Homo sapiens: one gene and its partner. The protein of the gene in region 1 purifies or fractionates together with the protein of each later gene. This does not show direct contact. Each region holds a gene or a part of one and is shown in the gene's direction. Other genes may lie near its edges.

The links.
Region 2: the proteins of TM2D1 (region 1) and DPY19L4 purify together in Homo sapiens (affinity purification with mass spectrometry; one large-scale study listed by BioGRID and IntAct). This does not show direct contact.

The regions. Positions count from the first base shown.
Region 1 is NC_000001.11:61,722,791-61,726,707, reverse strand, and holds the start of TM2D1 (TM2 domain-containing protein 1 precursor), read left to right. Parts: upstream 1-1,566; 5' UTR 1,567-1,587; coding exon 1,588-1,751; coding exon of another isoform or gene 1,752-1,788; intron 1,789-2,278; coding exon of another isoform or gene 2,279-2,420; intron 2,421-2,921; coding exon 2,922-2,995; intron 2,996-3,917. UniProt on the Homo sapiens protein: May participate in amyloid-beta-induced apoptosis via its interaction with beta-APP42.
Region 2 is NC_000008.11:94,718,103-94,722,019, forward strand, and holds the start of DPY19L4 (probable C-mannosyltransferase DPY19L4), read left to right. Parts: upstream 1-1,797; 5' UTR 1,798-1,896; coding exon 1,897-1,912; coding exon of another isoform or gene 1,913-2,134; intron 2,135-3,917. UniProt on the Homo sapiens protein: Probable C-mannosyltransferase that mediates C-mannosylation of tryptophan residues on target proteins.

The DNA.
Region 1 (3,917 bases):
GGAGAATAGCTTGAACCTGGGAGGCGGAGGTTGCAGTGAGCCGAGATCATGCCATTGCAGTCCAGCCTGGGCAACAACAGTGAAACTCCACCTCAAAAAAAGAAAATTTAAAAACGTAGTTTATGTTTAAATATTACTTCAAATAGTTGTATGTCTTCCAGAATATATATTCCAAAATGAGGCCAGGCACAGTGTGGCCTCACACCTGAAATCCCAGCACTTTAGGAGGCAGAGGCGGGCAGATCACTTAGGCCAGGAGTTCGAGACCAGCCTGGCCAAAATGGTGAAACCCTGTCTTTACTAAAAATACAAAAATTAGCTGAGCGTGGTGGCGCACGCGTGCAGTCCCAGCTACTCAGGAGGTTGAGGCAGGCGAATCACTTGAACCAGAAGGCAGAGGTTGCAGTGAGCTGAGATTCTGCCACTGTACTCCAGCCTGGGTGGCAGAGAGAGATTCCATCTTAAAAAAAAAAATTTACTTCTCGTAAAACATTATACCAGTGTTCTCAAAGTGGGGGTCCCTGGACTAGCAACACCCACATCCCTTGGGATCTCCTAGAAATGGAAATTATCCAGTCCCTCCCTACATCTTTTGTATCAGAAACTCTGAGTGCCGGTTCTATCATTCTGTTTTAATAACTACTACAGGTGATTCAGATGCTATTCAAAGTTTGAGAACCACCAAAGTTAGTGCTAAAGTATGGATGAAGAAGCACCACTCAAGTTCAAATTTTTATATTGTTAGACAAAAAAAAGATTAAACTTAACTTTACGAAAACATTTTTTCCTCACTGTTAAAGTTCCCCACCACAGAACTTTTAGAACATATAGAAATTTAAAAACAACAGATGGAGGAAAAAAAATCTTCAACTTTTCACTTAATCATAAACTATTTGGTTTCCTCTTGTTACAGTTTCCACCCCCCAAATTATCCCCCACCTAAATTGTCACTTTTTTTTTTTAAAAGGCGTAATGTCTCTCACAGTTTTTAAGTTCTGTTCGTGGCAGCCTTCCAAAATCCTTCTCTAAAGTTACAGGAGGACATTATGTCAATTAGTAAGAGCATAGATCTGAAATCTGGCAAACATCAATTTCATTCCGACTGAGTCACTTAGTGATTAAGGTCAGTGTGTTTCAGCGTCTTTGAGCCTTGTTCCTTATCTGTAAACCCAAAACCTATCAGGGCTAACTGCGATGATGTCAGGAAAGCATTGATTCCAACCTCTGACGCCGCTGGCACTTTCAGAGGACCGAGAAGCCTCAGCTAAGGGCGCGGGAATGAGAAGCGGGTGAAGCACCTGATTGCCTAAACCACTCGTTTCCTTCCTCCAGCACTCAAAGATTAACCTTAGCTCCTTCCAAGGGTTCGTGGGGGAAAATTCGCCTCGAGGGACTGGGTACATGCATATTTTAAAAGGGTCTCCCAATGTGATTCCACGGGCTCACGGGCAGAAGAACACGCGAAGAGACGGAACTGGCCTCTATCCTATGCGAGGTCCCTTTAAGAACCTCGCCCTGTTGCCCTTCTCCCTCCCGCTCCTGGGCGGAGGCGGAAGCGGAAGTGGCGAGAAAGTGTCGGTCTCCAAGATGGCGGCCGCCTGGCCGTCTGGTCCGTCTGCTCCGGAGGCCGTGACGGCCAGACTCGTTGGTGTCCTGTGGTTCGTCTCAGTCACTACAGGACCCTGGGGGGCTGTTGCCACCTCCGCCGGGGGCGAGGAGTCGCTTAAGTGCGAGGACCTCAAAGTGGGACAATATCCTCTGTGGAGAACACCCCCCCATGGAGGCGAGGTAGAGTTGGGGTCGCAGGTGGGTCGCTGCCGTCAGGACTGGCTAGGGCTGTACTGAGTGAAAACGATAATCTGATCTGTGGCTTCTAATGACTGAAGGATCCCTGAAGGTGAACAGAGTTGTGGAGATGGGAGGGCCAGAGGCCACCCTTTGTGATTTCCTTATGATTTTACTAGTCATTGGCGCTTCCTCTTCTGATCCACTTTTTTTTTCTTTTTTATCAGTGTGCTTACTTGTTCAGTAAAACATGTAGATCCTGAAGTATGCCAGGCCCCGTTCTAGACACTAGTAATACAAAGATGGATAGTCTCTTACCCTGGAAATGTTTGCCAACTCTTCCTAGGGGGAAGACAAGTAATAACGATCTAGCCAATGTGTTGCCCATTTATCATTAACTTTATGTATATTATGCATATTACCTCATGTCATCTTCAAACTTCATGAGATGGTAGACTGCCAGACAAATTTCTTTCTGTTTTCTTTTTTTGAGACAGGGTCTTACTCTGTCGCCCTGGCTGGAGTACAGTGGCACGATCTCAGCTCACTGCAGCCTCCGCCTCCCGGGTTCAGTCAATTCTCCTGCCTCAGCCTCCTGAGTAGCTGGGACTACAGGCATGCGCCACCACACCCGGGTAATTTTTGTATTTTTAGTAGAGACGGGGTTTACGCCATGTTGGCCAGGCTGGTCTTGAACTCCTGGTCTCAAGCGATCCGCATCCCCCTCACCATGAACCACCGCGTGGGGACTCAGTGGATAAATTTCTGTTGCACTTTGCAACCTTGGGTGACCTATTTGAACTCTGTTTTCTCATGAGTAAAAACGTGGATAATTATGGGGCAAATTTAAAGGTTTATTGTAATGTTTATGTATTATTATATTATTTGTAGAGACAGACTTCTCGTTATGTTGCCCAGGCTGTTCTTCCCAAACTCCTGGGCTCCAGTGATCCTCCTGCCTCAAGTATTACTTAGCAATACTAAAAGTATATTTGTACATATGCTTATTGACTTGGACAAACTAGCAGCCTCTATTTACATGTGAATATCAACATGAGTATATAATATGAATAGTAAAGGCATGATAATGTGTTGTGTTGGAATGTAGTCCGTATTTCCTTAACTTTTTTTTTTACATATATTTGTAAAGATCCAAAAATAAATGACGCTACGCAAGAACCAGTTAACTGTACAAACTACACAGCTCATGGTAAGACTTCAAGAAACATGTCTTTAAAAATAATTTTAAAAACATTATTTCATAGGTCAATGTATGATCACTAAAGGCAATTAATAAATGCATTTTTTCTAAATGATAACATTATTATTCAGTTTCCAGAGTAACTTAAAACTGGAGAACTACCTAGAGGTTGTCAGTATTTAATTTAAAAAAGAATCTTACTTGTTCTGAAATGGTGAAATTTCACCATATAAACAATAATAGGGCTGGACGTGGATGTTCCCAGATTCAGTTAGGCAAGTGTACTTATATTTTATATACTTTATTTTCCCCAAATTAATAAGCATATCATTCCCTCACATGGAAAGTCTTCCTTTTATTTTCCTTTAGCTCTCCACTTATATCATCTATGAATACTTACCTGATAGTTCTTGGCTAGTGCCATAATACCTACAAGTCCTTTCTGCTTCCCAGCAACTTCATCACTATCGTTTATGTCACTTTGATAAATGTCATTTCTATTACTTTGATTATATTACTTTGGTTTATATTTGATTATATTTATTTGATTTGGGGTATGTGTTTATGTGTGTGTATTTAACATTCAGTTGGCACCAAAATGATTTTTTACATGTTTATGAATTTATTTATCAATAATTCTTAAGTGGATTCAACATTTTATTCCAGAGGACACCTAACTGGAGGGCAGGAGGGCAGACTTCTTTTGGGATAGAAATTCTTTTTAGTTGTGTCATTTCCTTTGAAATCTCCATATATACAAAACAACCCTCTAGGCGAGAAAAATACTTTTTTTATTTTTATTTTTGAGACAGCTGGCTGCCAGCTTCCCAGTATGAAGTGAGATGCTTGAGTTACACTAGTATTCACAGATTTCTAGCATCTTTCATATGAATGATTGAAACAACTATTTGAGAACTAACTCTTCTTTATG
Region 2 (3,917 bases), on another chromosome or scaffold:
TTTCTTTCCCCTGTTATTGTAGAGGTCAGGCAAACTTAAAATTTAGTCCATTAGTCAACTTGAGGTGACCGTGAAGAAACTGTAGGATATTAAGACTCTAGACTTAGAAAACAGCAGACCTCAATAGCTACTATATGTTTTCCAAGAGGTGCAGCTCTTTCAGTCAGCTGATCTGATAAGCAGCATACTCAGGTACTGTTGCTCATGTCCAGGGACCCTACCATATCCTGTGGTTTTCAGGGTCCTTATATTCTGTGCTCTCTTGGCTCTGGCACCAGGCCTTTTCTGGTCCACTGTTTCTAACTCCTGGTAAAGTGTTGTTTTAAGGCAAAAAACATCTTTACGGGGAACCAGACATAAAAAGAGTTCCTGGAGGCCCTGCGTGGTAGCTCATGCCTGTAATCCCAGCACTTTGTGGGGCTGAGGCCGGTGGATCACTTGAGGTCAGGATTTCAAGACCAGCCTGGGCAACATGGTGAAACCACACCCCTCCACTTCTCTACTAAAAGTACAAAAAATTATCCGGGCGTGGTGGTGGGCACCTGTAAACCCAGCACTTCGGGGGGCCAAGGTGGGCGGATCACTTGAGGCCAGGAGTTGGAGACTAGCCTGGCCAACCAACATGGTGAAATCCCATCTCTACTAAAAATATGAAAATTAAGTGGTGGCTTGCGCCTGTAGTCCCAGCTACTGGGAAGGCCGAGGCACGAAAATCGCTTTAACCTGGGAGGCGGAGGTTGCAGTGAACCTAGATCGAGTCATTGCATTCCAGCCTGGGCGACAGAGCGAGACTCTGTCTCAAAAAAAAAAAAAAAAAGTTCCTGGAACCGTTTCTGCACATCACTGAAAAATGATAGCCTCTCCCCAAATATCCTAACTTAAAGGTGCTATTAGGAGAATCTTGCTGCCTGCTAATAATGGGGTGTCCATAATTACCCCATGACTTCAGTGAATTCTCGTGCCTGTTTCTCCCGATCTAAAATGGGTATATTTCATTTACTAAATTTACTTCTGAGTACTGTTGGGGAAAAGATCCCGGTGTTTGTTGAAGAATGCTAGATATAATGAAAGTTAAACACAGTTTAACAAATTAAAATTATTCCCTATTGCTCTGTAATATCTAATTGCACACTGCTCTACCCCAGACCATTGTATTATCTCCCCGCCCCCCCCCCCAGAATATCATGAAATGCAACATATTTGCTAAACCAGTTTTGGTGATTTAAAACAAGTTCCAAGCACAAGCTTCTTTCTTGTAATGGTCAAGTGGCCTACGAAACCAAAGCGCCAACTGAGAACGTTTTGCTGCTGCACTCTGAAATCCCAGCGAGAACGCAGGCAGCGATGGCAGTTCTGGAGCACCGGGTTCCACTTCTGCCTCTGACCGGCTTTGTGACTTCCACCACATTAGATCTGAGTTTCCTCCATGTAAAATGGGGCGGGAATGGAGGCTGGACCTGGGAGGTGTCGCTGATGATCGTCTCTGACTCGCTAAGTCGCGGAGTCACAAAAGTGGCGGAAAGCATGCCCTCACTTTTTGGGAAGAGTAGGACGAGGGGCGGGGCTGCAGCGAGACCCACCAGTCTCGCTTTCCAGGGCAGGCGGCGGCCAGGAGCTACAGCTGTGGGCTGCACTCCCGGCGTGGAGTCTCCTTCCTGCCCGCGCAGGCCCCGGCGCCCCAGCGAAACGCTCCGGCCGCTCCCCTCTCCCAACACTCTGGTTCCCGGGCCGCCTGCGGGGACGCGGTTGGCGGCGACACCGGAGGGGGGTGGGTCAGGAAGTGGGGGCGCGGCGGCCAGGAGCGGGCCCCCGGAGGCCGAGGGGTTCGGCGACGCGGAGGGAGGGAGAGTCTGGGCCGCGCGGGAGCCGCAGGGCGCCCTAGCCTTCGCAGAAACGATGGCGGAGGAAGAAGGTGATTGCCGCGGGGTCCAGCGCGCCAACGGCTGCCAGTGGTCTCGGGAAGGAGGGGCGGGGGCGCTGGAGGTCTGGGTTGGAGCTGCTGGTGGCCGCGGTCGCGGTGGCGGCCGCGCGGGCAGGGCGGGAAGGAGCGCGGCGCCCAGGAGAGGACTGCGGAGAAATTCAGGAGAGCGGAGCAAATGGCCCGAAGTTTTGTCGGCCGAATTGGGAAGCAAAGGTGGAGCTGAAAGTTGGGAATCCGTAGCAAGAGAGAAAGCTGTGCCGGGAGTGGTTGGGAAAGAGGGAGGGTCCTGATCAGATTCTTGGTGAAGTGGGAGGCGCAGTTTGGTTTCGAAGATCAGGTTTAGGTACTCAGTGCATATTTGGAATGCGATTTTTAAAGGGCTGTGGATATTGACAAACCCAGAGGCACAGGGGGCGAGGGAACATTCACCACGGGGATAAAGAGGCAGGGATTTGGGATAAACGTGGCAAGATTAATTGGGAATGGGCGAACACGCAGAAACTGAAGAAAGCCAAGTTCACTTAGGTTCAGGGGAAAATGGTAAAGAGCAGAGCCATCTAATTATTATAGTTTTGGGAGATGATGAGGCCAGGAGGCCTTTGAGGGTCAAAGTGGGTGAGCTGGAGAAAGGTTTCCATGCCGCCTTCAGGATCAATGCTAAGATAAGTAATTCATTCAGCAGTATTTTATTTATAGAAAATGATAAGTATGAGACAAAAATGGGAAGTTAGATGAAACTTATCGGTTAGTGATAAACAATACAAGGAATACTCATGGCATAGTAACTTCATGATAACCCCTACTAGTTTCAGGAAGTGAGAAGCAATTAGATTTTTGCATTCTGGTGGAAAACACAACTTTTTACCTTATGAGTGGAGCTGTGGATGTGATAGTAAATCGATCTAATTTAGACTCAAGCCCCCCTGCCTTTTTTTTTTTTGAAACGGAGTTTCGTTCTTGTTGCCCAGTCTAGAGTGCAAAGGCGCGATCTCGGTTCACCGCAACCTCCGCTTCCTGGATTCAAGCGATTCTCCTGCCTCAGCCTCCCTAGTAGCTGGGATTACAGGCATGCGCCATCACGCCCGGTTAATGTTATATTTTGAGTAGAGACGGGGTTTCTCCATGTTGGTCAGGCTGGTCTTGAACTTCTGACCTCAGGTGATCCGCCCACCTCGGCCTCCCAGAGTGCTGGGATTACAGGCGTGAGCCACGGGTCCAGCCGACTCAAGCCTTTCTGAATCAAGAGTGCAAGGAAGGAGTTTAAAGGATTCAGCGGAAAGCAATTTTTAAAAATTAAGCATAAGAAGTGTTTACTGATGTGTGACTTGCTGACCTGTCCCTATGCAGGCTTGGTTCATATTTGTTTCCATTGAGTTTTCAGAGTGTTAAAGCTGGTCTGAATTTAAGACATTCTAACTAAAAACAGCTTCAAAAACAAAGCTATTTGTCGTTGGTGAGAAAGAATGTAATTCCATTTGTTTACTTGGTTCTGTCTGTGGTTACAGTATATCATCATTTGAAATATTTCTTGATGTATTTTTCTTTTCTAATTGCAAATTTATGGGGGTAGGTTGATATACTAGCTTGTAGGTTCCTATGAGTACATTCATGCTTAACTTAAAGCATTAAAAAAGTTAAGACTGCATTAAAAAATCAGTACTACAATACTGAAAGTCTTTAATACATCATGCAAAATGAAAAATTATTTTAGACTATGGTTGTACTTAAATAGATCTGTGGAGCCAATATTAAAAGATTGTACCGTTTTGTAAATTTTACTTACGTGATGTAAAATGATAAATGGGCGGGGCATGATGGCTCATGCCTGTAGTCCCAGCACTTTGGGAGGCCAAGGCGAGTGGATCACTTGAAGTCAGAAGTTCGAGACCAGCCTGGCTAACACAGTGAAACCCCATCTCTACTAAAAATACAAAAATCAGCCGGGTGGAGTGGCAAGTGTCTGTAGTCCCAGCTACTCAGGAGGCTGAGATAGGAG